5 separate regions of the Homo sapiens genome follow, and all the other regions are linked to region 1. The links come from fine-mapping of genetic effects on gene expression. A gene starts in region 1. Each other region holds a variant in brackets. All regions are shown on one strand. Distances are from middle to middle. Region 1 holds the start of DNAJB6 (DnaJ heat shock protein family (Hsp40) member B6). Region 2 overlaps DNAJB6 (DnaJ heat shock protein family (Hsp40) member B6). Region 3 overlaps DNAJB6 (DnaJ heat shock protein family (Hsp40) member B6). Region 4 overlaps DNAJB6 (DnaJ heat shock protein family (Hsp40) member B6). Region 5 has its middle 31 kb from the start of DNAJB6.

What was found. PIP is the estimated chance that this variant, and not a neighbour inherited with it, causes the effect.
Region 2: its variant is fine-mapped to the expression of DNAJB6 in tibial nerve (GTEx, PIP above 0.99). The same link has a PIP of 0.9 or more in breast, monocytes after LPS and unexposed skin.
Region 3: its variant is fine-mapped to the expression of DNAJB6 in whole blood (INTERVAL, PIP above 0.99).
Region 4: its variant is fine-mapped to the expression of DNAJB6 in whole blood (INTERVAL, PIP above 0.99).
Region 5: its variant is fine-mapped to the expression of DNAJB6 in whole blood (INTERVAL, PIP 0.98).

What each region holds. Positions count from the first base shown.
Region 1 is chr7:157,333,786-157,340,091 of GRCh38, forward strand. DNAJB6 (DnaJ heat shock protein family (Hsp40) member B6) reads left to right here and starts at 3,219. Exons shown (of 10, transcript NM_058246.4): 1 at 3,219-3,359. RefSeq lists enhancers at 318-397, 2,667-3,169, 3,170-3,673, 4,402-4,451 and silencers at 2,932-3,091, 3,282-3,491, 3,552-3,741.
Region 2 is chr7:157,366,026-157,372,331 of GRCh38, forward strand. It overlaps DNAJB6 (DnaJ heat shock protein family (Hsp40) member B6), which reads left to right. Exons shown (of 10, transcript NM_058246.4): 4 at 477-536; 5 at 1,348-1,458. Among named protein-coding and RNA genes, the nearest start is that of DNAJB6, 32 kb to the left of the region's middle. The variant A/G (reference allele first, on the strand shown) is at 3,384.
Region 3 is chr7:157,355,638-157,361,943 of GRCh38, forward strand. It overlaps DNAJB6 (DnaJ heat shock protein family (Hsp40) member B6), which reads left to right. Exons shown (of 10, transcript NM_058246.4): 2 at 2,910-3,000. The coding sequence starts at 2,936. Among named protein-coding and RNA genes, the nearest start is that of DNAJB6, 22 kb to the left of the region's middle. RefSeq lists an enhancer at 2,138-2,187. The variant A/AG (reference allele first, on the strand shown) is at 2,803.
Region 4 is chr7:157,389,312-157,395,617 of GRCh38, forward strand. The region is part of intron 8 of DNAJB6 (DnaJ heat shock protein family (Hsp40) member B6); the gene reads left to right. Among named protein-coding and RNA genes, the nearest start is that of DNAJB6, 55 kb to the left of the region's middle. RefSeq lists an enhancer at 934-1,534. The variant T/C (reference allele first, on the strand shown) is at 3,395.
Region 5 is chr7:157,302,524-157,308,829 of GRCh38, forward strand. No RefSeq gene overlaps it. Among named protein-coding and RNA genes, the nearest start is that of DNAJB6, 31 kb to the right of the region's middle. RefSeq lists enhancers at 148-417, 5,674-6,215, 6,216-6,306. The variant CA/C (reference allele first, on the strand shown) is at 3,728.

The sequences.
Region 1 (6,306 bases):
CTGGTCTGGAATTCCTAGGTTCAAGCAATCCTCCTGCCTCAGCTTCCCAAAGTGCTGGGATTACAGGTGTGCACCACTGTGACCAGCCTGATACGCGTTTTAATGTGTGTGTGTGTGTGTATATATATATACACACACACACATACACACACATATATTTTCTTTTTCGAAGGGGGAAAAGCTATTTGTGGCTAGCCTACCACTTACAATGTAAAATTCATGTCTGTGCTGCTTACATTTCAAGATGAGCTCACAATCACTGTAGGGACGTATTGACATGTAAAATGTCCCATGATAGTACTGTCTGTCCACACTGAGATGGAACTAAACCTCCATCAATCTGCAAGCAGATAGGTTACATGTGACAGTGCCAAGCTGTGCACATATCTGAAATTCCAGTCTTTGCTGAGATTATTTTAGGTTTTATTATGAGATGCCCATACTAACACAAACTATTATTTCTTCCTTTTGAACAGTCATTTATATAACCAGTAAAAAAAGAGAATAGAGGCTGGGCTTGGTGGCTCATGCCTGTAATCCCAGCACTTTGGGAGGCTGAGGTGGGTGGATCACCTAAGGTCAGGAGTTTGAGACCAGCCTGGCCAACATTGTGAAACCGCATCTCAACTAAAAATACAAAAAATTAGGCATGCATGGTTGCTCATGCCTGTAATTCCAGCTACTCAGGAAGCTGAGACAAGAGAATCACTTAAACCTGGGAGGTGGAGGTTGCAGTGACCCTAGATTGTGCCACTGCACTCCAGCCTGGAGGACAGACAGAGAGACTCAGTCTCAAATAAGAATAGAGAATCCAGTCAGATTTTCCTTTGCTAACTGATCATTTGCTAGAAATGACATGCAGTAATACAATTAAAGTTTAAGAAACACAAAAAATGAGCCCAGCACAGCGGCTCATGCTGGTAATCCCAGCACTTTGGGAGGCTGAGGCAGGAGGACTGCTTGAGCCCAGGAGGTTAAGGCTGCAGTGAGCCATGATTGAACCACTGCACTCCAGCCTGGGTGACAGAGCAAGACCCTGTCTCAAAAAAAAAAAAAAAAAAAAAAAAAAAAGGGCAGTATTTCATTTTGAAGTATAACAATTACAGCCATTAACCAAGTGTTCCAGTTGTCTAAAATGAGGCAGGTGTAGACGGAAAATTTTCCCTGTACTCTCTGAAGGTTTCACAACTGAGTCTCTGAACTAAGCTGACAATAGACAGATTCGTAAGAGAAAAAGTATACAAATCTATAACATGTACTAGGGCATCCCAGAATCCAGTGAGATCTGGAAGCTTATACAGCCCCTTCATAGAAGAGAGGGGAGGCAGATGCAGGCAGCTCAGGGGAGAGAAAATGATTTTTTGCCTTCAGAATAGGTGGTGGCCTGTGGCAAAATCTGTCTGGGTGTGCAGCTGACGTCCCTTGAAGCTCTTCTCCCGTGATCCTGGCTCATTCTTCCCTGGATGAGACTTCCAGGGAGGGGGTCAAGACAATTGAGTCCCTTTGGGATGATCTGTCTTTATGTAAATAATGGGGGATTCACAGAATGCCCCTCCCTGCATTGGCAGGTCCCCATGTGCCCTCAGTTTGAGGGCATACTAATGTGGTAATCAGTGAACTAGTTAGTAATCAGTATCCTAATATGGCATAATTCAGGGTGGCATTTCTCCAACTCTTTCATTACTAACGAGCTATTTTAAACCAAAAGTGATTCAAGTGTTAAAGTGCCTTTTACTTGAATATCTCCCAGGCTTAAACGATCACGAATTCATAAGCGTTGTTAGTTCAGAAGGTGGCTGAGCAGGCCCCCGGAATTCAGTGTCAGCATGCCACAGGATCTGAAGTTCAGGAAAGGTGTAACAAAAAGGGATTTTTCTTTTTTCTTGAGACAGAGTTTCGCTCTTGTTGCCCAGGCTGGAGTGCAATGGTGTGATCTCCGCTCACTGCAACCTCCTCCTCCTGGGTTCAAGCGATTATTCTGCCTCAGCCTCTGCAGTAGATGGGATTACAGGCATGCACCACCACACCTGGCTAATTTTTTTTGCATTTTTAGTAGAGACGGGGTTTCTCCATGTGTCAGGCTGGTCTCGAACTCCCAACCTCAGGTGATCCGCCCGCCTTGGCCTCCCAAAGTGTTGGGATTACAGGCGTGAGCCACCGCACCCAGTTGAGATTTTTATTTCTTAAAGGAAAGGATAAGGTGGGCCAGGACTAAGACAACACAGTAGCAAACATCTGGCTGAATGCTGGAGAGGAAGACAGTGGGAGATCCAGGCCAGGCTCCATGGACGAACTGCTTGTTGGCTCCTTAGGCTTTGGGTCTGCGGGACCCTTTCGCTACTGGGAATGGGAGCCTGTCTGACTGCACTGGGTCTGAGACTCCCTGCTCCTGCTGGTCACCATCTACACGCATGTGGTGTTGGTCTCCAGGGTTAGAACCAGAACCCCTGAGGACGCGGGAAAGGCTAGGAAGCCTGGGGATGACCTAAAGTCCAGCTATCAAAATGCGCCGCGTTTTCAGAAAAACTACTGCCACGATTTAACCTAAAAAGCTTCATCTGTATTTTCTGCCACAGTTTGCTTCCGTTTCCTTCAGTCACTATTCCCTGGCGAAGTCTCCACGCGCTCCCGTTCGCCGGGGAACTTAGGGTATCCGGGCTTCCCTAAATTGACAAGCGGGGGCCGGCGCCTTCGCCCGCCTTCGCTGGCCGCCGCTTGGTTTGTTCTTCTTCTCCTTCGGGGACTTCTCCGCCCGCGCCCGCGCCCGCGCCCCAGCTTTCGTCCCGCTGTGCGGAGATGCCACCCAGCTCCACCGCAGGACCGCGGAGCGAGAGGCGGCAGACGCGCTCCGGGGGCCGCCGGTCAAGAGGAAGATGAAGGGCGCGACGACTTCGCGGTTTCCAGAATGGGCTCCTTCTGGCCCAACAATAAGTGCCATTTGGAATCTTCTCGGCCTTCTCTGTGCCTTCCGCGCGTCTGGGCTCCCCGGTACCGTAGACCCGGCCCCGAGCTCCGCCCCCTCGCCCTGGGCTTCCCCGCCCCCTCGCCCCCAGTCTCCTGGGCTCTTCGGGGCGGCGGAAGAGCCGAGAACCTTCGCGAAGGTGGGGCGGGCGCCCCCGAGGTTGGGCCCGCGGTATGGGCAGTGGAAACTGCGCATGCGCGGCGTCAGGGTCGGGCGGAAGTTGACGCCGCCGTGCCGCCGCCGCGTGACGCATTTCCTGTTTGTTGTTGGAGAAAGGAGAGAAAGGAAAGCGCGAGGAGCCGCCGCCACCACCAGCGCAGCAGTCCTGGAGCTGTGAGGAGATTCGGGCCGTCACCCTGCCTCCCCTGCGTCCCGCCACCGGCCGCTTCTGTCCTCGGTGAGGGTCTGTTCCGAGGGTCGGGGGAGGTCGCCTAGGGCCCCGCGCGCGCCCGGCAGACGGCGGACCTCACCCGGCGCCTGGCAACAGCGCGGGGGGTGACCGGGGTCGCCGGCCGGGGAAAGGACTGGACGGGGCGGGGGCCGTGGCCGGGGTTGCGGGGCGAAGGGTGGGCGGGGTCCTCTGGGTCAGGTCTGGGGCCGGGGCCGGGGCTGGGGTCTGGGGCCGCCCGGCCGCGTCCTCCCCGCCCGGCGTCCTTGCCGGAACGCGGCCCAGCCTCCGCGGCGGCGGTTGGGGGTGGGGCCCGGCCTGGGAGCGGCCGGCTGGGGCTCGGCTGGGGCTCGGCGGGGCCGGCAGCGTGGGAGGCGTGGAGCGCCTTCTTTTTCTAAGGCTCCCGCACTCGCGTCTGAAACCAGAAACGGGAGTGGCTTGCGGAGCAGGAATGCCGCAGCCGTGCCGCCAAGTTCGGAGGGAGAAGAAGCAGGTGGGGGACCGCAAAGCCCTGTTTCTAGAACTCCGGACGGATTGTTCAGAAGTTTGTGGAAGAGCAGGCTGCCTTTCTCACTCAGAATGTTTGTCTGCTTTGCTTTGCGTTAAAGAATCTGCACCGTAGTTGATGCAACTGAAGTTTATATAAGAAGTTTACATTAACTCTTACCTAAGGAAGGTCAGTGACACACGCAGTGTAAACTGCAAATCATATATTGGCTCGAGAAAGGTTTTGGCACTAGCGAATTTTTTAAAGGATGGGTTTGCTAGTCAGACGTAAACTTCTGTGCTAACTTCTCACGTAAACGGGGCAGGAAACAGCGCAAGTAGAACGATCGTGCCACCACCGAAGGGGTGCCGCCTGCGAGCTCGGAGGCTTCAGCCTGTTTGGGAAGAGTAGGCTGAGCGGCGCTCTTTGTAGTTTTCAACGTTTTTATTGAGTTGCGAATTTTAGTAAGGATTTGTCGCTACAATTTAAGCCAAATTATTGATTTAGTAGAAAAGTTAGAGTGAAGACCGAAGAAAGGAAACAGACGTTAACCATTAAAGCTTGATTGCTGCTGCTTCGTGTTTAACCGCACTTTTCCAAATAGTGTTGCGTATCAGAACGATTCATGATTTCTGAAAGGAATTATATGCAGCCGCCTTACTCCTCCGCCAGTCCACCCGTCCCGCGTTCTCTCTGGGTTTACTCCAGACTTCCTTTTTTTTTTTTTCCTGAGACGGAGTCTGTTCTGTTGCCCAGGCCAGAGTGCAGTGGCGCGATCTCCACTCACTGCAACTTCCAGCTCCCAGGTTCAAGCGAGTCTCCTGCCTCAGCCTCCTGAGTAGCTGGGGTTACGGGTGCTCGCCACCATGTCCGACTAATTTTTGTATTTTTAGTAGAGACGGGGGTTTCACCGTGTTGGTCAGGCTGGTCTCGAACTTATGACCTAAAGTGATCGCCTGCCTCGGCCTCCCAAAGTGTTGGGATTAGAGGCGCGAGCCACCGCGCCTCGCCGACTCCAGACTTGTTTCCACTCCTGAGGGCCTTAAGCTCCCTTGGAGTTTGTGCTTTCACATTTCTTTCTGCCTTCCGTGATAAAGGGATGAATAGTTTTTATGCACGCTTCAGCGAGCTGCGGGTTTTTGTGGATTACGCAGGCTGTGAAATTTGGGAAGTAAGTTGCCTTAAGTTGGTAGATGTGGAGATTTGACAGGAAGTGGGAGAACAAAGGGGTTGGGAAGCTTTTGGAAAGTGTCCAGGCTTCATCTGTGCTGTGGAAGGTGAGAAAGTTGGGAATTCCAGAGGGCAGAGCTCTTAAAGAATTTGAGATGAGTTCAGCACTCTCTTCAAAACAGTGTTTTAAAATTTATTTTCTTCTGGATATGAAAGTGTTAGGTTTGGGAAGTAATTCTGGCTGTAGGACAGTTTTTCCGGAACACTAGGTGGGGAGTGTTGAATGTTGTGAAGACTAAAATATGCATATGGTATTACAGTGTGATACCTGTTACTGAGTGGCGTACATTAGCTTTCATTTTTAAGCAAGCCCGTAATTCCCTTCTATTAACTCTGTTTTGGACAGTGGTACCCGTCACCCTCATCAGTCTTCAACCTAGATAACCTAAATCCAGGTCTGAGGTGGGGGTGGAATGGTCTGTTTGCACCTTTTTTTTTTTTTTTTTTTTTTTTTTTTTTGAGACGGAGTCTTGCTCTGTCGCCCAGGCCGTAATTAATGCGGTGGCGCGATCTCGGCTCACTGCAAGCTCCACCTCCCGGGGTCACACCATTCTCCTGCCTCAGCCTCCCGAGTAGCTGGGACTTCAAGCTTCCGCCACCACAGCCGGCTAATTTTTTTGTATTTTTTTAGTAGAGACGGGGTTTCACCGTGTTAGCCAGGATGGTCTTGATCTCCTGACCTCGTGATCCGCCTCCTCGGCCTCCCAAAGTGCTGGGATTACAGGCATGAGCCACCGCGCCCGGCCTTTTGTGTGTGTGTGTGTGTGTGTGTGTGTGTGTGTGTGTGTGTGTGTGAGATGGAGTTTAGCTCTTGCCCCTGCTGGAGTATAATGGCACCATCTTGGCTCACTGCAACTTCGCCTCCCAGGTTCAAGCGATTCTCCTGCCTCAGCCTCCCGAGTAGCTGGGATTACAGGCATGCGCCACCACGCCCAGCTAATTTTTTCTATTTTTATTAGAGACGAGGTTTCACTATGTTGTTCAGGCTGGTCTCGAACTCCTGACCTCAGGTGATCCACCCGCCTCGGCTTCGCAAAGTGCTGGATTACAGGTGTGAGCCCGCGCGTCCGGCTGTCACTTTAAAGAGTATTATAAGAGGGCACTTCATAACTTGGGCAGGTATTTTTAGTCATCCTGAACGTGTCGCTGTGGACTGGGTGTCACCGCGGGACCGCACAGACACCTTACTGTCGTCTGCTGTAAAGGTCAGCTTCTATATTGGTTAATGCTTACAGATAT
Region 2 (6,306 bases), 32 kb after region 1:
CCACAAACTCCGCCTCCCGGGTTCCAGCTATTCTCTTGCCTCAGCCTCCTGAGTAGCTGGGATTACAAGTGCCTGCCACCACGCCTGGCTAATTATTGTATTTTTACAAGAGATGAGGTTTCACCATATTGGCCAGGCTGGTCTCAAACTCCTGACCTCAGGTGATCTGCCCACCTTGGCCTCCCAAAGTGGTGGGATTACAGGTGTGAGCCACCATGCCTGGCCGTAAATACTTAAATATTTCTAATAACTTGTAAAAATTCAACATACTGAATTTTTTTTGAATTGTTTTTCAGGAGAGAGGTACAGAAAGTTTTCCCTGTTGCTTTGTTTTGTTTTAAAGAAAAGGTGGCCATACTCCTTGAAATTCAGTTGTAAAACATCGAAAACTGATTTACAACTGGGGAAATACCTTATCTATTGAATTAAGGGTTTAAAAGGAACTTGGCCTTACCGACTTTTCTTTCAATTTTTAGCTAAGAAACGGGACATCTATGACAAATATGGCAAAGAAGGATTAAATGGTGGAGGAGGAGGTAAGTACGTGAGTTTTTTCTTTGAAGACAAAAGGTCTTGGCAAGTAAGTTGAGTTTGTAAATCACGAGTCTCTTGGTCAGAGTCGATTTTGTATCAGTAAATAGAGATGCAACGTAGAAAGCGAACTAAATTGGGGAGAGGACAGAGAAATTGATGGCATTTAAAAGTCTTTTACGAGACTAGAAGTATATGTTGATGTATTTTTTATAGATAGAAACAATTTGTAACCATACTGCAATATATTGTGAACATATACCCTTAGATCAGCACTTGACGTTATGTCAAAATATCCTAAGGGTTTAAAGAGCAGATTTTCCTGAAAAGCTAAAATAATGACTTTGAAGGGCGTGGACTTTGTCCCCAAAAGTTCCCACGGTCACTGGGCTGTGACCAGCCTCCCCAGGGGTGTTGGGAAATTATTGCTCCAAACCCACTGGGGCCACGCGGCAGCTTCTGTGGCTCCAGGAGGCCAGTCGTCGAAGTGGATGCAGATACTCTTGGTCTTCATAAACCTTCATAACAAATCATAAAAATGGTGTGTAATGTTACATGTTATATGCCGATCACGGATTTAGAGATGGTGAAAAGTAGTGTCGAAGGGGCCACTGCTGCACTCATATGCCATCAGCGCTGGGCACACTCACTCTCTGTCAGTACAGGGCTCATGTTTTGAATTATAGAGAACTTCAGGTTTATGAAATATTTTTGTTTTTATTAGTTCATGATTTGTATAATGTTTTGTCAACAAAGAATTCTTTGCCTACAAAGCACCAAAATTCATAAACTAAAAGCTGTGTTGTATTTGTGCAGGTGGAAGTCATTTTGACAGTCCATTTGAATTTGGCTTCACATTCCGTAACCCAGATGATGTCTTCAGGGAATTTTTTGGTGGAAGGGACCCATTTTCATTTGACTTCTTTGGTAAGTTAATCACGTGGGTTGACTTGGTGTGTGTCCATGACCCAAATGAGGGCTTACTTAGTATGGCCTTTCTGTTGAATTAACATTGTATTTTAGGCTGGGCGCGGTGGCTCATGCCTGTAATCCCAGCACTTTGGGAGCCTGAGGCGGGCAGATCACCTGAGGTTGGGAGTTCAAGACCAGCCTGACCAACATGGAGAAGCCACGTCTCTATTAAAATACAAAATTAGCCGGGCATGGTGGCGCATGCCTGTAATCCCAGCTACTTGGGAGGCTGAGGCAGGAGAATCACTTGAACCCGGGAGGCAGAGGTTGCGGTGAACTGAGATCATGCCATTGCATTGTTGTCTGGGCAACAAGAGTGAAACTCCTGTCTCAAAAAAAAAAAAGTTAACATTGTATTTTGTCACGAAACTTTGTGTTTAAAGCAGCATTGGACTAGCCTGAACAACATGGTGAAACCCTGTCTCAACAACAACAAAAAAAATACTAAAAATTAGCTGAGTGTGGTGGCGTGTGCCTGTGGTCCCAGCTACTTGGGAGGCTGAGGTGGGAGGATTTCCTTGAGCCTGGGAGGTTGAGATTGGGCCACTGCACTCCAGCTTGGGTGACAGAGCAAGGCCCTGTCTCAAAAAAATAAAACAGCACAGTAGCTGTAAAATCTTTTCTCTTCTTCCTCTTTGAAAATTTAAGTTACAGCTTGAAAAATTAAAATAATAAAGGGTTTAATGTATTTTTTTCTTTGTTATGTATGGCCTTAATTAACTTGCTTTTGCCCTCAGAAGAGACAGTGGTAAGGGCATGGGTGCGAGTGTCTTGGAAACGTTGTTTCCCATTGAACAACCAATTGGTGTGTGAATTTGCCACATCATATTCCTGGTAAAATCATTAAGCACCATAGTACTGTTGGCAAGACCTTTCATCCGTAAACATTGTGTGTGAGGACTGTTGTTGAGAGTTTGCGGAAAGGCACCTCTAGAGCAAGACTGCGGAGGCCTTTGCTGAGGAGAGAATGGTTTTGTTAAGGGAGACAGTGCTGTTATAGCTGCTGTTTGATTGTAGGAAAATGGATTTCTCATCAGTGGCATCTCAGTCCTGATGCCTGGTCCTAGGCGTTGGTGTATGTCTTGGGCACAGTTTGGGTCAGGCACTTTTGTTAGCTGTCTCCTGTTAGAGTCTTCTCAACCACTGGGACTTCCTGAGTGGTGCACTGGGTGACCTGAGAGGTCAGGATTAAACATGTACTCCTGTAGTTGTTTTTGTCTTTTGACTTATTGAAAGGGAAACACATTGTATGTTTACCTCCTTCATTGCCTGGAGCTTGGGTGAAGAAACTGAACACCACCTGCAACTCGAGGAGGGAAAGAGAAGAGTAGTTGTGTCTACAGATAATACAGGGGAGAAACGTGGAGCTCCTGCCTGCCGCAGGCACGAAGAAGCATAATCACTCTCATATCTGGTAGGTCTTGGGCCTTTTGCATGGTGCAGTTCTTCAGTGTGTCTCAAATGGGGATTCAAAGAGGTTGTTCTTACACCTTATTATGGGCTGGCTGGCTTGAAGAGAGCCCCTTTCTGAGGGAGGAAGGACAGTCAGTGGCCTCAAGCATTTTCAGGGAAACTGAAGCTGAGCAGGCGATTTCCGATTAGGGGACCGGGAGACTGGCGTGCTCATCGTTTAAGTGCATTTGCTGTAATCACTGCTGCCATCAGCAGAAACAGAGCTCAAGAAAGAACCATGTTTACATCCGTCCTTCATCAACCCTCACAGGCAAGAAATATTTCTCTAAGAAAAATAATTTACGGATTGATCTCTGTCTTAAAAATGACCTTTGCATCTTGCTGTAGCCTTCAGCAAACTGCATTTGTTGCTTTGCAGGACAGGGCAGTGTTTGGGTTGAAGTCCTGTGTTCTGATCGGTGATTCTC[A/G]TGGTGACCAAGCGAGGAAGAAGGCCCGCTCTTCCAACACCATGGCTTCTCTTCTGGGGCACACGAGGTGAAACGGGCTGTCCTCGTGATGTCTGAGACCGGGCGTCTTCAACAGGCCCTGCTTAACATTATGATTAAACAGGGCTTTCTTACCATTATTATTAAACAGGCCGTTTCTCAACATTATTATTAAATAGGCCCCTTCTTAACATTGTTATTAAAGAGGCCCTTTCTTCACATTATTATTAAACAGGCCCCTTCTTAACATTATTATTAAACAGGCCTTTCATAACGTTATTATTAAACGGGCCCCTTCTTCACATTATTATTAAACAGGCCCCTTCTTAACATTATTATTAAACAGGCCTTTCATAACATTATTATTAAACGAGCCCCTTCTTAACATCATTATTAAACAGGCCTTTCATAACGTTATTATTAAACGGGCCCCTTCTTCACATTATTATTAAACAGGCCCCTTCTCAACATTATTATTAAACAGGCCCCTTCTTAACATTATTATTAAACGGGACCCTTCTTAAGATTATTAAACGGGCCCTTTCTTAACATTATTATTAAACAGGCCCCTTCTTAACATTATTATTAAAGAGGCCCTTTCTTAACATTATTATTAAACAGGTCTTTCATAACGTTATTATTAAACGGGCCCCTTCTTAACATTATTATTAAACAGGCCCCTTCTTAACATTATTATTAAATGGGACCCTTCTTAAGATTATTAAACGGGCCCCTTCTTAACATTATTATTAAACAGGCCCCTTCTTAACATTATTATTAAAGAGGCCCTTTCTTCACATTATTATTAAACAGGCCCTTTCTTAACATTATTATTAAACCGGCCTTTCATTAACGTTATTATTAAATGGGCCCCTTCTTAACATTATTATTAAACGGGCCCCTTCTTAACATTATTATTAAACAGGCCGTTTCTCAACATGATTATTAAACAGGACCTTCTTAACATTATTATTAAATGGGCCCTTTCTTAACATTATGATTAAACAGGTCCTTTCTTAACATTATGATTATTATTTTAATTCAAAGGGGAAGGGTCCCTTAGTGACTGAATTGTAGCTAATTTTTGTTTTCCTTGGGGAAAATAATCTGATACACCAAGCCATAGAGCAATTACTTGTAAAGAAGGTATAGAGATCTAATTAGATGTGAGTGAATAAGTGAGTTTTTACCCCTAGTCCAAGGAGAGAGGTGCTAGTCTTACTGAAGCGCTTTACTGTTAAATGCTCCATTTTACATGCAGACCTATTTTAAGACCAGGTACCCTGTGTTTCCCATGATTAGTGTGGCAGTGATACTTGTTCATTCCGTTCTTATAGGTGTTCTAGATGACTTCCATTTTCAGGCTCTCAGGATTTACACACTGGGGAAGCTGCTGCTCCATGGCTGCTATATGTATGTAGTCACTGAGCAGCCTGCTGACGGTATGTTTAATGTAGATGGGTGTGGATGCAGAGCCAGAGGGATTTCCGCTTATTCATGATGTAGTTCAGGGGTCAACACCCTGGTCTGTGGCCTGTTACGAACTGGCCTGTTGGGAACAGGAGGTGAGCGGCGCGCAGGCAGGCAAGCATTACTGCCTGAGCCCCACCTCCTATCAGCTCAGTGGCAGCATTGGAGTCTCATAAGGGCACAAACCCTATTGTGAACTGCACACGCGAGGGACCTAGGTTGCGCATTCCTCATCAGAATCCAGTATCTGAAACCATCCCCCTACCCCAACCCATCACCCACTGTGTGGAAGAATTGTCTTCCATGAAACCAGTCCCTGGTGGCAAAAAGGTTGGGGACCGCTGTTGACAAATCATATTTACTAGACCTGGTGTACTTTCCACGTGACGAAAAAGTAGTTTAAAATGTGCTGTAAGATATTTCCGAGCTGCACTTTACATTTATCAGAATGCAGAACCCCTGCTGTACTTCAGACCTCCCTCATGATAGGTGGGGAAGGGTGAAGGGGTGCCGGATGTTGGACACATGGTATGCAGGTCTGTGCCTGAGCACCAGGCAGTGCTCACTGTCACACTGTGGCCAAGGAGACTTGGGCCTGGGGCCTGCGGTGTGGAACCCGTCCTTTACAGAAGAAGCCCTCCCAGGAGAGGTCGCGGAGGCGGATTCTAACACCAGCCTGGAAGGAATGCTGCCTCTGAATTGGAGGGGTACAATCAAAACTGCTGAGGCTAGGTGACTGTCGAAATTTCCAGAATGTGGAGCACATGCAAATGAGCTCTTGTCGAAATGTTAATTGGAAAATATTAATAGGCAGTGGACTTATTTGAATTAGGATGCTCTCTTTATTTTATTATTAGAGGACCCTATTGCTCAGTGAAATGATGTTCTGAGATAGGAAAGAAAGGGTACCTGATAATAGTGCCTTTTGATCCCATTAGTCACAGCAGGCATTACATCTGGGAAAAGCCTGTGGGTTTAACTTCACATTTTATTTATATTCTTGGAAAACCAAAGCGAACCTTTAAGGTTTCCAGAGAGGCCTTTTATTTTAGCAGTGCAGCAAGTTTTTCCTTTGTAAAGCATCACTGTGGTACGAATGATGCTCTGTAGCAATAGAGGAGGAGTCCTGTGGTATGTAGAACCAAGGAAAGCAGACTTCTTGCAGGAAAAATGAGTGCATTGAGGATAGTAACCTGACTTTCTGACCTGTGATTAAATTATGATAGTAGTCAGTCATTTTACTCTCCCAGGGTTTGAGGAAGTGGCCGGTGAGGACTTGGAGCCTAGTGAGGAGTTAGTAGAGCTGCCCAGGGTGGAGGAGGCCACAGAGGACAGCCCTGGTGAAGAGAACAGTGAGGCCTTGGATGTGTTGATATCCAGCAAGGACCTGGCACTGTCTAGTGAGGACGAGGCCTGCACAGGATGTAACTGGGGC
Region 3 (6,306 bases), 22 kb after region 1:
TGGGGGATGAGTCCAGGCAAGGAAGTGGAGCGGCTAAGGGTAAGCAGTGCAGGAGGAGCGCAGAGGTGAGGGCATCCACTCCAGGGGGTGGCTCTCATACTGCCTTTATGCTTTCCTTGTAGGGTAGCCTTCATTTGGTAAGGAAACTAGCCATTTGATGGAGTGCTGCATGAATACCGAGTGCTGTTAGTGGATGCTGCACGTACATGACAGAGCAGGCTTTCAGTGAGAGTGTTTTTGGTGGTGAAGTAAATCACAGCATTCCCCAGCTGGCCACGCGGCCCTCACCCACACCCACGTTCTCACCTCTGTGCTCACTGCCTCGGGAGGTGTCTTCCTCCCATTCCCACCACCATATGCACAAACACAGGCACACAAGTGCAGATAGAAGATGAGCTGTTTGGACTTGCGAGGGCATGTGTGCTTGGTGTGTGGCACATTGAATGGCCTCTTGCTATATATAGTGCTCAGAGGGGATGATCCAGATGTCTGGCATGGGGAGACTGGTACTGAGATTTCTGCTCTTGTTCTGTTAGTGAGAGTGGATTAGCAGCTTCCCTCTGTTTCTGCTAGGTACTGCCACTGGCATCACTGCCAAAATGCCACCTCAGATCGTTGGCAGCAAACTGGAGCTGGAGTGAAAATAACCTCACGTAGTCACTCAGCCAAGGGAATGAGGGAGACGTGAAGAAACGCTGGCTTTCCTGCTGCTTGTTGCCTGCTCTGTCTTGTGTGCTGTGACTGATGGGCAGGTTTTTAGTTACTGAAAGAAGATTGCGGTGTTCCTACTTACGGGAGTCGACTCCTGTCTTTTCTCTAGAGACTGGTCGGACCTGTGTGGCTTGAATCCTGTATGTTGCCATGTCATTCTAACTACCAGGGAGGAAATCTTTCATAACTAGGGGTTCCTTACCTTGTAACTTATTACATGAAGTCCCTAATATTTTATATTGATTATTTCCAAATGGAGTGGAAAGAACTGTGCAGTGGTATACCCTTAGGCACATTCTCCAATTAATATTTTATCTTTGTTTTATTATGTATCCAGCAAAGCTGATAACGTTAAATTGGAATAATTACAAGAAAATAGGAACAAGTTTTTTTCTAAGTTGTAATTTTAAAAATACTGGGAACAAATCTACTTAAGAAAAAGAACATTTTGATACTCTAAATTCCGTATCTTGTAGTTGGCATATTAAACTTAACACCTAGAATCTTTGCTGTCATGTATTTGAAGATGTACATTTCTTTTCTAAGTTTGATGTTAGTCATTCTGTCGAATTGATAATGTAGTTTATATACATCTAAATAGATCCTGATTTCCATTATAGTTTTTTGTTTTTTTGATGAAAGGACTTCCATAAAAACAAGAGTTTTAGGTCCAGGTTTGGTGGCTCATGCCTGCAGTCCCAGCACTTTGGGAGGCTGAGGTGGGAAGAATCCTTGAGCCCAGGAGTTTGAGACCAAGATCAGCAACAAAGTGAGACCCTGTCTCAATTAAAAAAAAAAACAAAAAACAAAAACCAAGAGTTGAAGTTTCCACAGATGTGTCTTTGTGGCTTTGTGATACTGTTGTCCTTCCTTCCTTCCTTCCTTCCTTCCTTCCTTCCTTCCTTCCTTCCTTCCGTCCTTCCTTCCGTCCTTCCTTCCGTCCTTCCTTCCTTCCTTCCTTCCTTCCTTCCTTCCTCGTTCCGTCGCCCGGGCTGGAGTCCGGTGGCATGGGCTGGAGTCTGGTGGCACGATGTCAGCTCACTGCAGTCTCTGCCTCCTGGGTTCAAGCAATTCTGCTTCAGCCTCCCGAGTAGCTGGGACTACAGGTGTGCACCACGATGCCGGCTAATTTTTGTATTTTTAGTAGAGACAGGATTTCACCATGTTGGCCAGGCTGATCTCGAACTCCTGACCTCAAGTGATCCACCTCCCTCGGCCTCCTAAAGCGCTGGGATTACAGGTGTGAGCCACGCGCCCGGCTGTGCAGATTCTTGATTGTTGTTTTAAAAGAGTAGGTTAGCCAGTCAAATTGAAAGAAGTAAATTGGTTAGGAAACGTCACATCTTAAAGCAGCAGTGTGCGTAGTTCCTCCTTGTGGGACCAGAGGCTACATCCTCCATTAGAGCTGGCAGAAGCAGAATGGGTTTCATTGTACATTTTACTGCCCGGGGAAGTAACAAGGTTGAACCACGTAATCCATAGGGGAACTTAGAGAATGAATCTCTGCTGCTGGTTTTCCACCTTCCATTCGGTAGTGATACTATCTAATTAGTGTGGTCAACAGGGCAATATTGTATTTCTTTGGTAGAGGAATGGATGGGAGCTTGGAACCAGAGGGTAAAGTTAACGCTAACTGCTGTGTAGTCAAAGGTCTTTCTCTCTTGGGAGATGTGTGGGAGGGCTTTTGCTGTTCCCTCGTGTGGGTGACAGAATGGTGGAAGGATGGCTTTCTATTGTTCCCATGTGAAGTTAGTTCAGGGCAGGGACAACGTGTTTGTCCTTGGAGCCCCGTGGTCTTGCCCGATGCCTGGCACAGGAATGCATTGAATGAAAGAGGTAACTGACGTTCCCTGAGCACAGACCGTGTCTAGGAACACATGACAGACTTTGTCAGCTAGTGGTCAAGTGGCACGGAGTCTCTGCCTAGAGTCACCTGTTGTTTAGTTTAGGCTATTATTAGGCTATTTCAGAGCTTTTTTCCCCGTCTCTAGAAGGGTCTTAGGGCATGAATCTGGGAACCAGTTCCCAGACAAGGTCTTGGCCCAGCAGGCTAGTGGTTAGCTCTAGTGGAAGTTCCCTCTGTAGGCCAGT[A/AG]GGTGCTAAGGTGACACCACCCCTTCCTCCCTCTCCAGACCCATCCCACCACCGTGATTTGCCCATCCCCAGCAGCCTCATCACTGACCACCTGTTTTTACTTGCAGGACCCATTCCAACAATCTCGTAAAACATGGTGGATTACTATGAAGTTCTAGGCGTGCAGAGACATGCCTCACCCGAGGATATTAAAAAGGCGTAAGTAGTTTTATTTCTGTGGTAATGCATTTTCACAGTGGTACATTGGTAATTGAGTAGTATAACTTCTTCTATTGCCTATGAAAATGGCTTTTAATGTAGTATACCAGTCTTTGAATGCCACATAGTTTAATTTGACAGAGCAGTTAACGAGCATTTGCAGTCTAGGCCTGGGCTTTGCTCTTCATTAGTCAGTCACTTGGTTTATATCTGAAGTTGATGATTGTTTCACTGAGGATGTGAGATAATCCCAAACATCTTTTACATTGGACTTTGAAAATGGAGCTGACTTGGCATTCTTGAGTGCCCCTTTGGAAGGCAGGGGCCCAGAGTACATAGCACTCAAATTTTCTTGTTGTGATTGTTGGGCTCCGGCCTATGCCACTGGAGTCCCTTCTGATTCATATGAAAGTTCGAGAACTGCAGCGCTGCCTGTGGTACCTGCATCTGTGTGACCAGGGCCTGGCCATTGTGAGGAGGGCAGTTCAGCCACAGAAGGCTCTCACGGTAACCTTAGTCTGTTTAATTAATGAGGTGTTAACTGTGAATGTAGAGTATACAGCAAAGACGTCATGAAACAGATTGTTAGATTTTAACATAGCTAGAGAGCAGTTAGCCTGGAATAGTTGGAACCAACTTAAAAAAATTGTTAATAAATAATGGAGTGTCTATACTGCTAGACTTAGTGGGTCTGAAGATAGAATTAACTTTTTTGGGGGCCAAATAGTTCATTTTGCTTAATTTTTAAATTTTAATAAAAATACAGAGTCTCAATATGTTGCTCAGGCTGGTCTCAAACTCCTGGGCTCAAGCGATTCTCTTGCCTTGGCCTCCCAGATTGCTGCGGTTATATTTGTGAGCCACTGTGTGTAGCTGAGATAGTTCATTTTAAAATGCTAAATTACGGCCAGGCAAGTGGCTCACACCTCTAATCCTAGCACTTCGAGAGGCCTAGGTGGGAGGGTCACTGGAGCCCAGGGGTTTGAGACCAGCCTGGGCAACAAAATGAGATACTGTCTTGACCAAAAAAAAATAGTTGGGTGTGGTGGCACATGCCTGTAGTCCCAACTGCTCCAGAGGCTGAGGCAGGAGAATTGCTTGAGCCCAGGAGGTTGAGGCTGCAGTGAGCTATGTTCGTGCCACTGTGTTCCAGCTTGGGCAACCAAGCCGAGACCCTGTCTCAAAAAAGCCAAGTCAGGATGGCTGACGTTGCCTGAAGGTTATTTGAAACCTCTGCCGAGGAACCTAGTAGAAGCAGTCTACTGAGGAGAGGTCAGGCAGGCCCTGATGCTGTCACTAGTAGAGTGAGGTTTCCCACACTGTGAGGAAGCCTGTGCTGCACACTTGAGGCTCACACTATTCTTATCAGTAATGTTAACAGCCAGGCATACTTGACAGATTATAAGACGAAGACAGTTGGGAATACCTTACTCCTCTCGAATAAGTTAATGGATGTATTAGTCTGTTTTTACGCTGCTGATAAAGACGTACCTGAGACTGGGAAGAAAAGGAGGTTTAATTTGACTTACAGTTCCACATGGCTGGGGAGGTCTTACAATCATGGAGGAGGGCGAAAGACACTTCTTACATGGCGACAGCAAGAGAATGAGGAAGAAGCAAAAGCGGAAACCCCTTATAAACCCATCAGGTCTTGTGAGGCTTATTATCAGGAGAATAGCACGGGAAAGACTAGTCCCCATGATTCAGTTACCTCCCCCTGGGTCCCTCGCATAACACCTGGGAGTTCTGGGAGTTACAACTCAAGTTGAGATTTGGGTGGGGACATAGCCAGCCCTTATCAATGGATAAGCATAATATGTGTACAGTGCTTTCAGTAATGATGGAAATTACATACCTTTATGATAGAGGTCATTAGAGAGTAGATTGGTTTTAGTTGTTTCTGAGAACATACAGGTTGCTGAGTGTCTCTAGCATGACGTTGAAGTAGGAATTTAGAAAAGGCTGTTACCTTTAAAAGCAGTGAGATTTCCTGCACTCCTGAGTGTACAGTTGTATAAATGCTGACTTTTAAAAATGAGCAGAATGATAGCTATGGGGGCGTGCTGTTAGTCTATCTTGTGTACCCTTGGCTTTGTGTGTTGACAGTTTTTGATTGAAGACTTAAAGGTCTGTGGCTGCCACCTGTTCTGCATCTCTCCTGAGATACCAGACTCTTCCTGGGTTTGAGTCACACACCATGGGCCTTCCTTCCTTGGTGCTGAAGTACTGGTGTGCAGGTCCAACAGATCTGAAGGTCAACATTCAAAGTCATTTGGCACTGTTTACACTTGCATATCGTGTTGTATTACACCTTGATTTTTAAATATTTTAGTAGTGTATGACTGGGGCATACACAGTTGAATCTTGTCCTGCATTCTCATCCATTGCCAAGTTTTCATATGAACACTAGATGATAGGTAGTACTGCACACTAATCATTTTTTCTCTTTTGTCTTTTGTATGGTCTGTTATTTTTGACTGAGGATTTCTGGCACATTTAGGGTTATTTGATCCACTGCTACACGTTTTTTTTTTTTTTTGAGACGGTGTCTCGCTATGTCACCCAGGCTGGAGTTCAATGGCGTGATCTCGGCTCACTGCAACCTCTGCCTCCCAGGTTCAGGCGATTCTCCTGCCTTAGCCTCCCGAGTAGGTGGAACTGCAGGCGCCTGCCATGATGCCCAGCTAATTTTTATATTTTTAATAGAGACGGGGTTTCACCATGTTGGCCAGGATGGTCTCGATCTCTTGACCTCGTGATCTGCCTGCCTCAGCCTCCCAAAGTGCTGAGATTACAGGCATGAGCCACTGCGCCCGGCTGCTACATGTTTGTTTAGGTCCACAGTGACATAAATTACTGTTAAGTATTCTGGACTCCAGCTTTAATCAGATTTTAGTATGGTTAAGCCAAGGTTTTGTTGAACATGTTGTAAGTTAAATTGAGCCACAACAGCTTTACAGTAATAACTTGCCTAGTGTTAAAAGCACTGTCAGATTAGTATACTAGTCTGAAATTTTGAGGGGTATGCTGCTTCTCTTTTTTAACGTTACCCTCCTTTTGAATATATGCTGCTTAGGTTTTGCTAATTAGACTAGAGGATTTTTTTGTATTCATTCATTCATTCATTCATTCATTCATGCATTCATGTTGAGCCGGAGGCTCGCTCTGTCACCTAGCCTGGAGTTCAGTGGCACGATGTTGGCTCACTGCAACCTCTTTCTCCTGGGTTCAAGCAATTCTTCTGTCTCAGCCTCCTGAGTAGCTGGGATTACAGGTGCGTGCCTTCATGTCCGGCTTTTTGTATTT
Region 4 (6,306 bases), 56 kb after region 1:
ACGGTAATAAATAATTGGCATATTATCTCTGTTATTGATTGGCAGCAGTGTTGAAATTTAGCCATTAGCATGTTCAGTGACAGAATGGAGGCAGATGTTGTTATTTCGGAGGTTTTCAAGCACAAAATTATGTTTAGTTGATTTGAATACTTGGTTTCGTGGGGTCTGGAGGGGACTGAATTACATAACCCACTGCTGTTTGTATTTTTAAAAACGAAGGCATGAGATCTTACCCTTTGGGGTCTTGATTTCAAAGCCTTTGGATATGGTATTCCTAGCTGTTCTAGGGACGTGGGGGGAGCTAGATGTAGGCCTTGGTACTAAAGTGTGACCAATGGTTGAAATGGGGTAGACCGAAGTCTGTCATTTGGCTACGTTATTTCGTCTTCCTGTTTAAAAAGGTGAAAAGAGGGAATGTCACAGCAGCTATTCCTGTGTTAGAAATCTAGACGTCACTGATTTCCAGAGACAGCAGAGTTTATGATTGGGCGTTAGAAGGCCTGTCCTGGCTTCTGTGCTTTGGTCAGTATTTGCTGCCTTTTGTGCAGGGTATCAGTCGGTCTTACCTAACTGTTCACTAAGGACTCGACTCTGAGCTTTGTGGCCTGGGCAAGTTGCACACTCAGGGCAGACCCCTGACTGCGCTTTGCCCTTTTCCCTGTACCCTGATTGGGAGAAGATTCCTGCCTCGGAGTGCAACCCCAACAGGAATGCAGGTCCTGTGAAGGCAGTAATTCTCGTCTGTCTGGCTGCTGCTGTGTCCTGGCAGGTGTGCCCTGGAAGCATCCCGTGAGTGCTGGCTGCGGAAACCCAGATGGTGGTTGCTGTCCCACAGCCCTTGATTCAGAGATGCCCTGGACCACAGCTGCCTGGAGTGTAGAGCAGAGGCTTACTCCCCACACCCCTCCTGCTGTGCGACCTGCGGCCCAGCCTGCTGTTGGAGGCTTGCCATGTGGATCCGAAGGACCTGCGTCTTGGCTTTACAAAGATTCTCCACTCCTGGGAGCCCTGACTAGCAAACGTCTGTGTAGTGTTGATGCCACACTGCAGTTGTTAACATCGCGTCCTTTTCTGCCCTGTTAGGTTGGTTTCTCTCTTAAACAGGGCAGCGCTGTCATCCCATTCCCCCGCCTGGTCCTTCCTCTTCCCCCTAGCTGGTTACTGAACTGACTGCCATTCAGGCACTGATGGGAAATCACTTCCAGAACTTGCAAAACCATAGAGACCGGAGGTTTTCTGAAGGAGGCTTTGGTGCTGAAACATTGCTGCTGAAACATTGTTGCAGAAATGTGGGGTGGAGCCTCCTTCCTGCCCGTCTCACCCAGGGGATGTGGTTTGCTTCCCGTGTGGTCAGCGCTGTGCTGCGAGCTCTGAGAGGTGACCTTTTCCTCTGCCTTCCCACAGCTGCCCTGAGTTGGCAAAAAGTGCTTTGCCCAAGGACAGGGTCTAATTGATAATGGCGTGTGGGGGAGATGTGGCTCCTGAGGCCTGGAGCATGCATTCATTCATTCCTTTATATTATTTTATATTTTACTTAACTTTTGGACCAGTTCTCTCTCTCTAACCCAGGCTGGAGTACAGTGGTGCAGTCACAGCTCTCTGTAGCCTTCAACTCCTGGGCTCAAGCATTCCTCCCACCTCAGCCCCTAAGCAGTTGGGACTACAGGTGTGCGACACAACGCCTGGCTAACTTTTTGTATTTTTAGTGGAGACAGGGTTTTGCCGTGTTGCCCAGGCTGGTCTTGAACTCTTGGGCTCGAGCGCATCACTCACTTTGGCCTCCCAGAGTGCTGGGATCACAGACATGAGCCCCCACTCCCAGCCCAGAGCATTTTACACCAGATGTCAGGACATTGCTGGTAGGAACAGCAGTTGGAGCAGAAGCTCGGGGTGTGGTCATCAGGGAACTGTGGAGTTTGCAGCCTGCGTGAGACACGTTTCGTACACACATTTCTGCCAAATTGAGAACTTTGCTGCTCGTCAGCTCTAAGCCAAGTAACCTCTTACCCAAAACTTCCAGGGATGCTTTACATAATGCCAGGCCTCTGAGAAAGTCAGCTGCAGAACTTGAACGAGAAAGTGCTGTTTTCCACGAGTCTTTTCAGCCGTATCTTTCCGTGTCCATGGGTCAGTGGTCCCTGCACAGATGAATTGGCACTGGACACGGCCTCCTGCGGTGGCTGCTGGGGGCTGAGCCTTCCCTGCCAGTCCCTGCCAAGCAGGAAAGACAAGTTTCCCTCAGTTGGGGTCTGTGCCCAGCATGAGTGGTCTATCTAGTGAGTGGCTGGGCACAGTTGTCCCCATCCATGGCGGATGCCTGGTGGCAGCACCCACTGGGTCTCAGCCCAAGTCTTCCGTGGATCCTGGCAAAATATTGATGTCCTTTTCCACATAATATTTAAGGTATTTGTGTAGAGTCTTATGTACTTGCAGGAGCAGTTGGTTAAATTAGGTACCTAGAAGTTGAGTAATTGGCTTGAGAAACGTGTGCATTGAAAATCGGTAAGTTACCAGGCGCAGTGGCTCATGCCTGTAATCCCAGTGCTCTGGGAGGCTGAGGTGGGTTGATTGCTTTGAGCCCAGGAGTTCAAGACCAGCCTGGGCAACATGGTCAAACCACGTCTCTACAAAAAATATGAAAATTAGCTGGGCTTGGTGGCGTGCGCTTGTAGTCCCAGATACTCAGGAGGCTGAGGTGGAAGGATCACTTGAGTCAGGGATATGAGGCTGCAGTGAGCCGTGATCGAGCCACTGCACTCCAACCTGGGCAACAAGGAGACCCTGTCTCAAAAAAAAAAAAAAAAAAGGATAGTCATAAATGATTTCTTAGAAGGAGTCTTCTCCTATCAACAACGGATTGGGGTCTGTGTCCTCACGCTTGCTAGTACTGTCTGTCAACAGTTTCTAAAATTTGCGTCTTGGCTATCCAGGGCAAGCATCTTGTGTCACCTGCGTGTGCCTCTTTTTCTGTGGACTTACTCTCTTGATTTTATAGGAGCCCTTTACATGCTAGTTGATTAGTCTTTAGCCTGCTGTGTTGAAAGTGGGTTTTTTTTTTTTTTTTGGTTTTTCTTTTGTTCACGTGACTTACTGTGTGGTAGTCTTAATTATTTACACAGATGTGTGTGTGCGTGCGTGTGCCTGTTACAGAGCTGCCCCATATTTTTATTTTGTAATCCTGTGTGTGTTTACTTTTATTTATTTGGAAAGGTTGTTGTGTGGGAAACAGCCAGCTTTGTCCCAGATTTCTTGCCCGCGTTTCTGCCGGACTCTCGTCCTGTCTGGTTTCTTGCACCCTGTATGGATGGCAGTGTGTGCATCCGGAAGCGCAGCTCCTTTCCAGCTCGTTTCTAGGCCAGTCTTCGTCGTGCTTTCAAATGAAAGGTGCAGTCAG[T/C]GCGAGGAACACCCCATGTAGATTTGGGAGAGCCTTTGACACCCGAGAGCCATGTGGCAGACTAATTTTTTTAACATCCTGTTTTACGGACAGCTGTAAAGTGCTGTCTTAATATGTAGGTGTGCACATTTCCTCATTGTATCACTACATGAAGCTGGGAATGCCGTCTGTGTGTGTTTTCTGTTCTAACTTATGGAAAACCAGGAAGTCGGTACGCCTTACATTGCTTTTTATCTCATCACTTTAGTCTTGGTATTCTGATTTTATTATATTTATTTTTTTGAGGCAGTGTCTTGCTGTGTCGCCCAGGCTGGATGGAGTGCAGTGGTGTGATCACGGCTGACTGCAACCCCTGCCTCCTGGGTTCAAGCGATTCTCCTGCCTCAGCCTCCCGAGTAGCTGGAATTACAGGCGCCTGCCACCACCCCTGGCTAATTTTTTTGTATTTTTAGTAGAGACGGAGTTTCACTATTTTGGTCAGGCTGATCCCAAACTCCTGACCTCGAGTTATCCCGCCCTCCTTGGCCTCCCAAAGTGCTGGGATTACAGGTGTGAGCCACTGCGCCTCGCCTATTCTGATTTTAAAAAAGAATTGGAATATCATATTTTTTACAATTGGAAAACTCTATAAATTTTCTAATTTTTACCCTTATTTTTCTTATTGATATAAGTATTTTTGTCTTGTTTTCCAGCAGGCTGATTTTAGTATTTTACTGTGTGATTATGTTTCTGAGAAAGATTAGTTACTGTGTTTATGTCCCAAAATTCCTCTACATGGCACTGTTGGGTTCTCTTGTACCTTGATTTTACTTTGGGTTTTAGATTCTGTAGAGAGGGTGAAGCTCCCGGCCCTGTGATCTTGAGGAGGGTGAGTTGGGAGCCGTCCATGCCCTGCCTACCCCAACACCAGGTTCAGCTGCCTGTGAAGTCATTTGTTTCGTGCACATTTCCTAGTTACTGGTATTTTTTAATCATTAAAAATGTTTTTAAATTATTGATAGTAATTGTACGTATTTGTAGGGTGCATGTGTGCAGTGGGTGATGATCAGATCGGGGTGCATGTGTGCAGTGGGTGATGATCAGATTGGGGTTAATGGCAGAGCCACCTCACAGTTACTGTTTTGTGTTGGGAACATTCAGAGCCTCTCAGAAAACTTTATTTCCTAAGCTGGTTTGTTGAGGGGTTTTCTTTCATATCAGTTTGCTAATTTATGTGTTCACTGGAAGCATCCACGGTGTTCTGAGGCCTGTGATCATGCGCCTTTCTCATTCTTTACATTTGTCCGTGTCTGAAGGTTTCCAAGTGTTTTCCTGTTGGTTTAGTTTCTCTCAAAAGAATACCTTTCTCATATCTTATTATTATCCTGAGTTTTTCTTCCTATTTTGGTTAGTTGTGCTTCTGCAGAATATTTATTTGCAGTACTTTTGTTCATAAATAGGAATGTTAAGAATTGTTTTTAAGTTCGACTTGTAAAACATTTTTGTTGACTTCTAAGTCGTTCTTTTAAATTTCTATTTTCATTCAAAAATAACCCATATGACATCTATTTTTTGGAAGGAAGGGTTAAGAAACAGCAGATGTTGCCTTGTCAATTCTGTGAGCTTGTATTCTACTGGATTTTTTTCTATCTTGCTTAAGAAATGCTGCCCCTGTGTATCTACCTTAAAAAATGTTTAAGTCCAGGCGTGGTGGCTCACGCCTGTATTCCAGCACTTTGAGTGGCTAAGTGGGTGGATCGCTTGAGCCCTGGAGGTCGAGGCTACAGTGAGTCGTGATGACACCACTGCACTCCAGTCTGGTGATGGAGTGAGACCCTGTCTCAGAAAAAAAAAAGTTGAAAATATGAATCCATCTAGAACATTTGTGTGAAGTGGCCTCACTTTTTCCTCCTCTATGGACAATTTGTCCTTCCTCCATGATGAATTGTGATTTAATTTTTAATGATTTGCTTGTCTGCAGCTTTTTTGGGAGGAACTTTATTGGGATTTGCCCATCATGAGTACATTTGTTAAGGATGGGTGCGATTTCCCTCTTGTGAAGAAGCAACACATCACAAGAGCAGATTTTGTCCCCGCCTCTCAGCGGAGCTTAGAACCATACAGAAAGTGGGCCAGACGTGGTGGCTTACGCCTGTAATTCCAGCACTTTGGGAGGCTGAGCTGCGTGGCGGGTGGATTGCTTGAGCCCAGCCTGGGCAACGTGGTGAGACTCTGTCTCCACAAAGAATAGAAAATATTAGCCTGGCTTGGGGGTGCACGCCTCTAGTCCCAGCTACTCAGGAGGCTAAGGTGCGAGGATTGCTTGAGCTGGTGGAGGTCAAGGCTGCAGTGAGCCAGGATTGCACCACTCGGCACTCCAGCCTGGGCAACAGAGCAAGACCCTGTGCCCGCCGCGCCCCCCCACCTCCCAAAAAACCCCAGAAAGCAGAGAGTTAGCTGTTTGTCTTCCCCATCCGGTATTACCAGGGCTGGAAGCATACTTGAGAGCACTACGTTTAATGGGCAGCATTTTGGGAGGGGGCTGGGGGGGGGTTGGTGCTGGGCACATCTGGCCACTTAATGTAGTTAAAGCAATAGCAACTGAATGAAAAGCTCTAACATGAATTCATCGTTTCATCTGTTATCTGACTTTTAACATTAACATATCTAGTTCTGCTTTTGTCTGTCTTTTAAAGAGAATTGCATGGGCAGCTTCTCTGTTTTTCCTGCGTATGCAGGAGCTTAGCTTTGGGCTCCTGAGCTCAGGCCTTCTCAGCTCTGATGAGCTTCAGGAGAGGCAGTTGGAGGTTGAATCTGGGTGGTGTATGCCTTCTTATGGAAGTCCCTGATGGGAAGACAGAGGAGCTCTGAGAAGAAACTAGAATGACTTGTCATTACATTTTTATGTGGAATAAGATTCAGATGTCTTTAGA
Region 5 (6,306 bases), 31 kb before region 1:
GTGTAAACCGTGCCACCAACGTTCCAGTTCACAGCAGCCAGATCACAGGAAGCTGCCTGGCACAGGCGCCCACTTCCTGGTGTCGGGTGGCCCAGAAACCGCCTTGTCATCAGCGTTGCTTGGTGAGCACAGCCCCAGGCACAGCCCCAGGGCTCGACTGTCTTTCTGAGCCCAACTCCCTCCTGGTGGGAACATTCAGTATGTCTTCCTCGGAGGAGGCCATGTCAACCCTGACCCAGCCACTCCCTCTATCTTCTTCTTCTTCTTCTTCTTCTTTTGAGACTGAATGTCGCTCTGTCGTCCAGGCTGGAGTGTCGTGGTGTGATCTCGGCTCGCTGTAACCTCTGCCTTCTGGGTTCAAGTGATTCTCCTGTCTCAGCCTCTCAAGTAGCTGGGACTACAGGCACGAGCCACCATGCCCAACTAATTTTTGTATTTTTAGCAGAGGTGGAGTTTCACTATGTTGGTCAGGATGGTCTCGATCTCTTGACCTCATGATCTGCCTGCCTCGGCCTCCCAAAGTGCTGGGATTACAGGCATGAGCCACCACGCCCGGCCCTGTATTTTTTATTTTTTATTTTTTATTTAGTAGAGATGGGTTTTTCTCATGTCGCCCAGGCTGATCTTGAGCTCAGGCAATCCACCTGCCTTGGTCTCCCTAAATGCTGGGATTATAGGCACGAGCCGCTGCGCCCGGCCGATCTGCCCTTCTTTTTTTGTTTGTTTGTTTGTTTGTTTGTTTTGAGACGGAGTCTCCCTCTGTCTCCCAGGCTGGAGTGCAGTGGCGCAATCTCAGCTCACTGCAAGCTCCGCCTCCTGGATTCAGGCCATTCTCCTGCCTCAGCCTCCCGAGTAGCTGGGACTACAGGCACCTGCCACCACGCCCAGCTAATTTTTTCGTATTTTTAGTAGAGACGGGGTTTCACCGTGTTAGCCAGGATGGTCTCGATCTCCTGACCTCGTGATCCGCCCGCCTCAGCTTCCCAAAGTGCTGGGATTACAGGCATGAGCCACCGCGCCCGGCCTCTGCCCTTCTTTTCAGTTGCTGCATAGTCTCCATTGCATGGTCCTACTGTGTCCATCTCATCAGTTCCTTAGGAATTAGTGCTTAGGGTAGCTGCAGTCTCTGCCACTCTCACCATGGCTGCAGAGCGTGTCCCGGCATATATTTAATGTGTTTCACTTTGTCTACTCCTGCAAATGGATCTGCAGACGTTCCTGTCAGTGGAATTGTTAGGTCAAAGACGATGCATGTCTTCCTCTGAGTATTGATTGTCACGTCTCTCACACTGACATATGCTACTGATTGCAAATCTATGTGGATGCTGCTGTATCAAATAACATTCAAATTAGTCGCAAAGGAAAAGAGAGATGGATTCCTTTCATATGAATTGTCCAACATAGGCAGGTGCACGGGGACAAAGTGGAAGAAGGGGAGAGCCTGTGATGGATCTGAGGTGGTTGTTGTTTTTGTTTTGTTTTACTGCTCCTTGTGGGGTAGGTCCTCCTCGTAGACAGTGTGCCCAGCATAGCCCAAGGTTTCTTTCTTTCTTTTTTTTTTTTCTTTTTGAGACAGAGTCTCACTCTGTCGCCCAGGCTGGAGTGTAGTGGTGGGATCTCGGTTCACTGCAACCTCCGCCTCCCGGGTTCAAGCGATTCTTCTGCCTCAGCCTCCTGAGTAGCTGGGACTACAGGCATGTGCCACCGTACCTGGCTCATTTTTGCATTTTTGGTAGAGACGGTGTTTCACCATATTGGCCAGGCTGGTCTTGAACTCCTGACCTTGTAATCCGCCCACCTTGGCCTCCCAAAGTGCTGGGATTACAGGCATGAGTCACTGCGCCCGGCCTGCTTTTCATATTTTAGAGATGGGTCTGGTGATGTTGCCCAGGCTGGAGGGCACTGGCCATGGTCAGCACAGAAGCTCTTAACCTGCTCCTGTTCCCCGCTGACATGGGCTCGTTCACCCCACCTTGGGCAACCTGGTGGCCCCCAGCTTCCAGAGGTCACCATATTGATGCTGAATTTAGCATGGACACCTAATCAATTTAACACACTGCAGCCTCAAGCTCCCGGGCTCACACAGTCATCCTACACTCCTGGCAATTCTGTTTTAGGAATTTAACTTTAGGAGATAGTAAAAGATAACTTCTTTTTTTTTTTTTTAAGTTGAGACAGGGTCTCGCCTTGTCTCCAGGCTGGAGTGCAGTAGTGCACTCACGGCCCACTACAACCTCAGCCTCCTGGGCTCAGGAGATTCTCCCACCTCAGCCTCCTGAGTAGCTGGGACTACAGGCACGCGTCACCATACTCAGCTAATTTTTAAATTTTTTTTGTAGAGATGGGGTCTCGTTATATTGCCCAGGCTGGTCTGGAAATCCTGGCAGCAAGTAATCCTCCTGCCTCAGCCTCCAAAAGTGCTGGGATTACAGGCAGGAGCCACCACCCTCGACCCCAGCAAAAGATAACTTTTAAAAAGAATATAGTCGTGATTCATACAGATATAAAATGAGCATGTGTTAAAAGATTTCATGTAACTCGTTCAGATGTTACAACTGGTTTAAAAATAATTCCAAGAACCACACACATATAGGAAATGTCAAAGAAAGAGTCAAACTGTAAAATATTTGAAGAAATTTATTCTGAGCCAAATACGAGTGACCATGGCCCATGACACAGCCCTCAGGAGGTCCTGAGAACATGGAACCAAGGTGGTTGGGGCGCAGCTTTATACATTTTAGAGAGGCATGAGACATCAATCAAATGCATTTAAGAAATACTTTGGCCGCGTGCAGTGGCTCACGCCTGTAATCCCAGCACTGTGGGAGGCCGAGGCGGGTGGATCACCTGAGGTTAGGAGTTCGAGACCAGCCTGGCCAACATGGTGAAACCCTCGTCTCTACTAAAAATACAAACAAATTAGCTGGGCGTGGTGGCAGGCGCCTGTAATCCCAGCTACTCAGGAGACTAAGGCCGGAGAATCGCTTGAACCCGAGAGGCAGAGGTTGCAGCAAGCCGAGATTGTGCCACTGCACTCCAGCCTGGGTGACAAGAGCGAAACTCCGTCTAAAAAAAAAGAAAGAGAGAGAGAGAAAGAGAGAGAGAGAGAGAGAGACTTGGGTTTGGTCCAGAAAGGAGGGACGACTCAAAGCGGGGGCTTCCAGGCTATAGGTAAGTTTAAACATTTTCTGGTTGACAATTGGTTGAGTTTATCTAAAGACCTGGGATCGACAGAAAGGAAATGTTCAGGTTAACATAAAAGATTGTAGGCCGGGCGCAGTGGCTCACGCCTGTAATCCCAGCACTTTGGGAGGCTGAGGCAGGTGGATCACCTGAGGCCAGGAGTTCGAGACCAGCCTGACCAACATGGTGAAACCCCGTCTCTACTAAAAATATAAAATTAGCCGGGCGTGGTGGTGCATTCCTGTAATCCCAGCTACTAGAGAGGCTGAGGCAGGAGAATCACCTGAACCCAGGAGATGGAGGTTGTAGTGAGCTGAGATCATGCCACTGCACTCCAGACTGGGCCACAGAGTGAGACTCTGTCTCAAAAAATAAATAAATAAAAATAAATAAAATCAGCCGGATGTGGTGGCACATGCCCGTAATCCTATCTACTCAGGAGGCTGAGGCAGGAGAATCGCTTGAACTCAGAGGTGGAAGGTTGCAGTGAGCCAAGATCGTGCCACTGTACTCCAGTCTGGGCAACAAGAGCAAAACTCTGTCT[CA/C]AAAAAAAAAAAAAAAAAAAGATAAAAGATTGTTGGGTGGGTGCAGTGGCTCACACCGGTAATCCCAGCACTTTAGGAAGCTGAGGCAGGAGTTTCACTTGAGGTCAGGAGTTCAAGACCAGCCTGGCCAACATGGTGAAACCCTGTCTCTACTAAAAATACAAAAATTAGCCAGGCGTGGAGGCGTGCACCTGTAATTCCAACTACTAGGGAGGGGCTGAGGCAGGAGAATTGCTTGAACCTGGGAGGCAGAGGTTGCAGTGAGCCGAGACCGTGCCACTGCACTCCATCCTGAGCGAGAGAGCAAGACTCCATCACACACACACACACACACACACACACACACACACACACAAAGACCGTGGAGACCAAGGTTTTTTTGAATCTATCGCGGCTGCCCTTAGAGACAAAAGATGACAAATGTTTCCTGTTCAGATCTTTAAAAGGTGCTAGACTTTCAGTTACTGTCTTCAGGATTGGGAGGGCCTGGAAGAAAAAGATCTATGTTACTAGAGACTCTTTACAGATGCATTTTTCCCCCACAAAGGATGCTTTGCAGGGCCATTTCAAAATATGGCAAAGAAACATGATTTGGGGTAAAATATTTTGATTTTCTTCTTTGTCATGTAATGTTATGCCAGAGTCAGATTGGAAAGTAAGTCACGTTATATAGGGTTAAAGAAAACCCATCTGTCTCTGAAGACGTCCCGCTGAGCCCTGGTGGACTTGAATCCACTAGGAAAGCTCAACCCAGCACAGCTCTCTAAGTCAGCATCCCAGTAAATGCACGTGGAGAGGAGGTTGGGCCAGGGCCACACAGAGCCTCAGGTCCGACATCTGCCAAACAAGACACCAGCTGTGTGCAGCCACAGCTCCTTCATGAAACTCTTGGGACCCAATGTGCTTTGGAACTCGGAATTTTCCCAAACTTTGAAAAGTCGATTCTGCACATATACTATGGTTCTGTTCCATCCCATCTCCGGAGGGTAGGCAGCAGAGTGTGTGCAGGTCCACACTGGCCATCAGTAGCCTCAGACCAATTATGTCATATTTTACAACCAAGGAGTTTCTTAAAAATGTACTTTCTGACCGGGCGCGGCGGCTCATGCCTGTAATCCCAGCACTTTGGGAGGCCCCGCCACTCTAACTAGGTGAACTCTCCCTCGCCCGAGGCTCCAACCAGCTTCCACCTCCTGGTTTGTCCACTCCGCTTCACGGCCACACCTCTGACTGCGCTTTGAGGGCTGCACCAGCTGTGTGAGCATCTCACCTGCTCGTCGGACAGACTTGGGTTTCTCGGTCCCCTGCTTCTGAATTATCTGCTCCCATCACCTGCAGGCTTTCTTCCGCATAACAAGGCAACGTTTGTTCACCAGACCCATTCTTCCTGGACCACCCCAAAACTTGTCTCCATCACACCCAGAAACCCCAACTCCTCTTCCTTTCTGTAGCTCAGAATGCCATCCAGGCCTCCGTCATCCAGCCCTTCTTTGCTTCTTATAGCTCTGCGGAACTATACCAGGAAGGGGTCCTGATCCAGACCCCAAAAGAGGGTTCCCGGATCTCACGCAAGAAAGAATTTGAGGTGAATCTATAGAGTAAAGTGAAAGCAAGTTTACTAGGAAAGCAAAGGAATGGCTACTCCATAGGCAGAGCAGCAGCTTAGGCTGTCTGAGTAAGAATACTTATGGTTATTTACTGATTATGTGCTAAACAAAGGGGTGGATTATTCATGAGTTTTCTTCAAAAGAGGTGGGCAGTTCCTGGAACTGAGGGTTCCTCCCCTTTCTAGACCATATATGGTAACTTCCTGACGTTGCCATGGCATTTGTAAACTGTCAAGGCAATGGCGGGAGTGGTTTTTAGCAGCTAATGTGTTATAATTAGCATATAATGGGCTGGGGAGGTGGCTCACTCCTGTAATCCCAGCACTTTGGGAGGCCGAGGCAGGTGGATCACGAGGTCAGGAGTTCAAGACCAGCCTGGTCAACATGGTGAAAACAAATACAAAAATGAGGCTGGGTGCGGTGGCTCGCGCTTGTAATCCCAGCACTTTGGGGTACCGAGGCGGGCGGATCACGAGGTCAGGAGATGGAGACCATCCTGGCTAACACAGTGAAACCCCGTCACTACTAAAAATACAAAAAATTAGCCGGGCGTGGTGGGTGGGCGTCTGTAGTCCCAGCTACCCAGGAGGCTGAGGCAGGAGAATGGCATGAACCCGGGAGGCGGAGCTTGCAGTGAGCTGAGATCGCACCACTGCACTCCAGCCTGGGCGACTGAGCAAGACTCCGTCTCAAAAAAAATACAAAAATTAGCCAGGCATGGTGGCAGGTGCCTGTAATCCCAGCTACTTGGGAGGCTGAGGCAGGAGAATCGCTTGAACCTAGGAGGCGGAGGTTGCAGTGAGTCAAGACCGCGCCACTGCACTCCAGCCTGGCGACAGAGCGAGACACAGTCTCAAAAAAAAAAAAAAAAAAATTAGCATATAATGAGCAGTGAGGACAACCAGAAATCACTTTCATCTCGGTATTTGTGGGTTTTAGATGGCTTTTTTTTTTTTTTTTTTTTTTGAGAT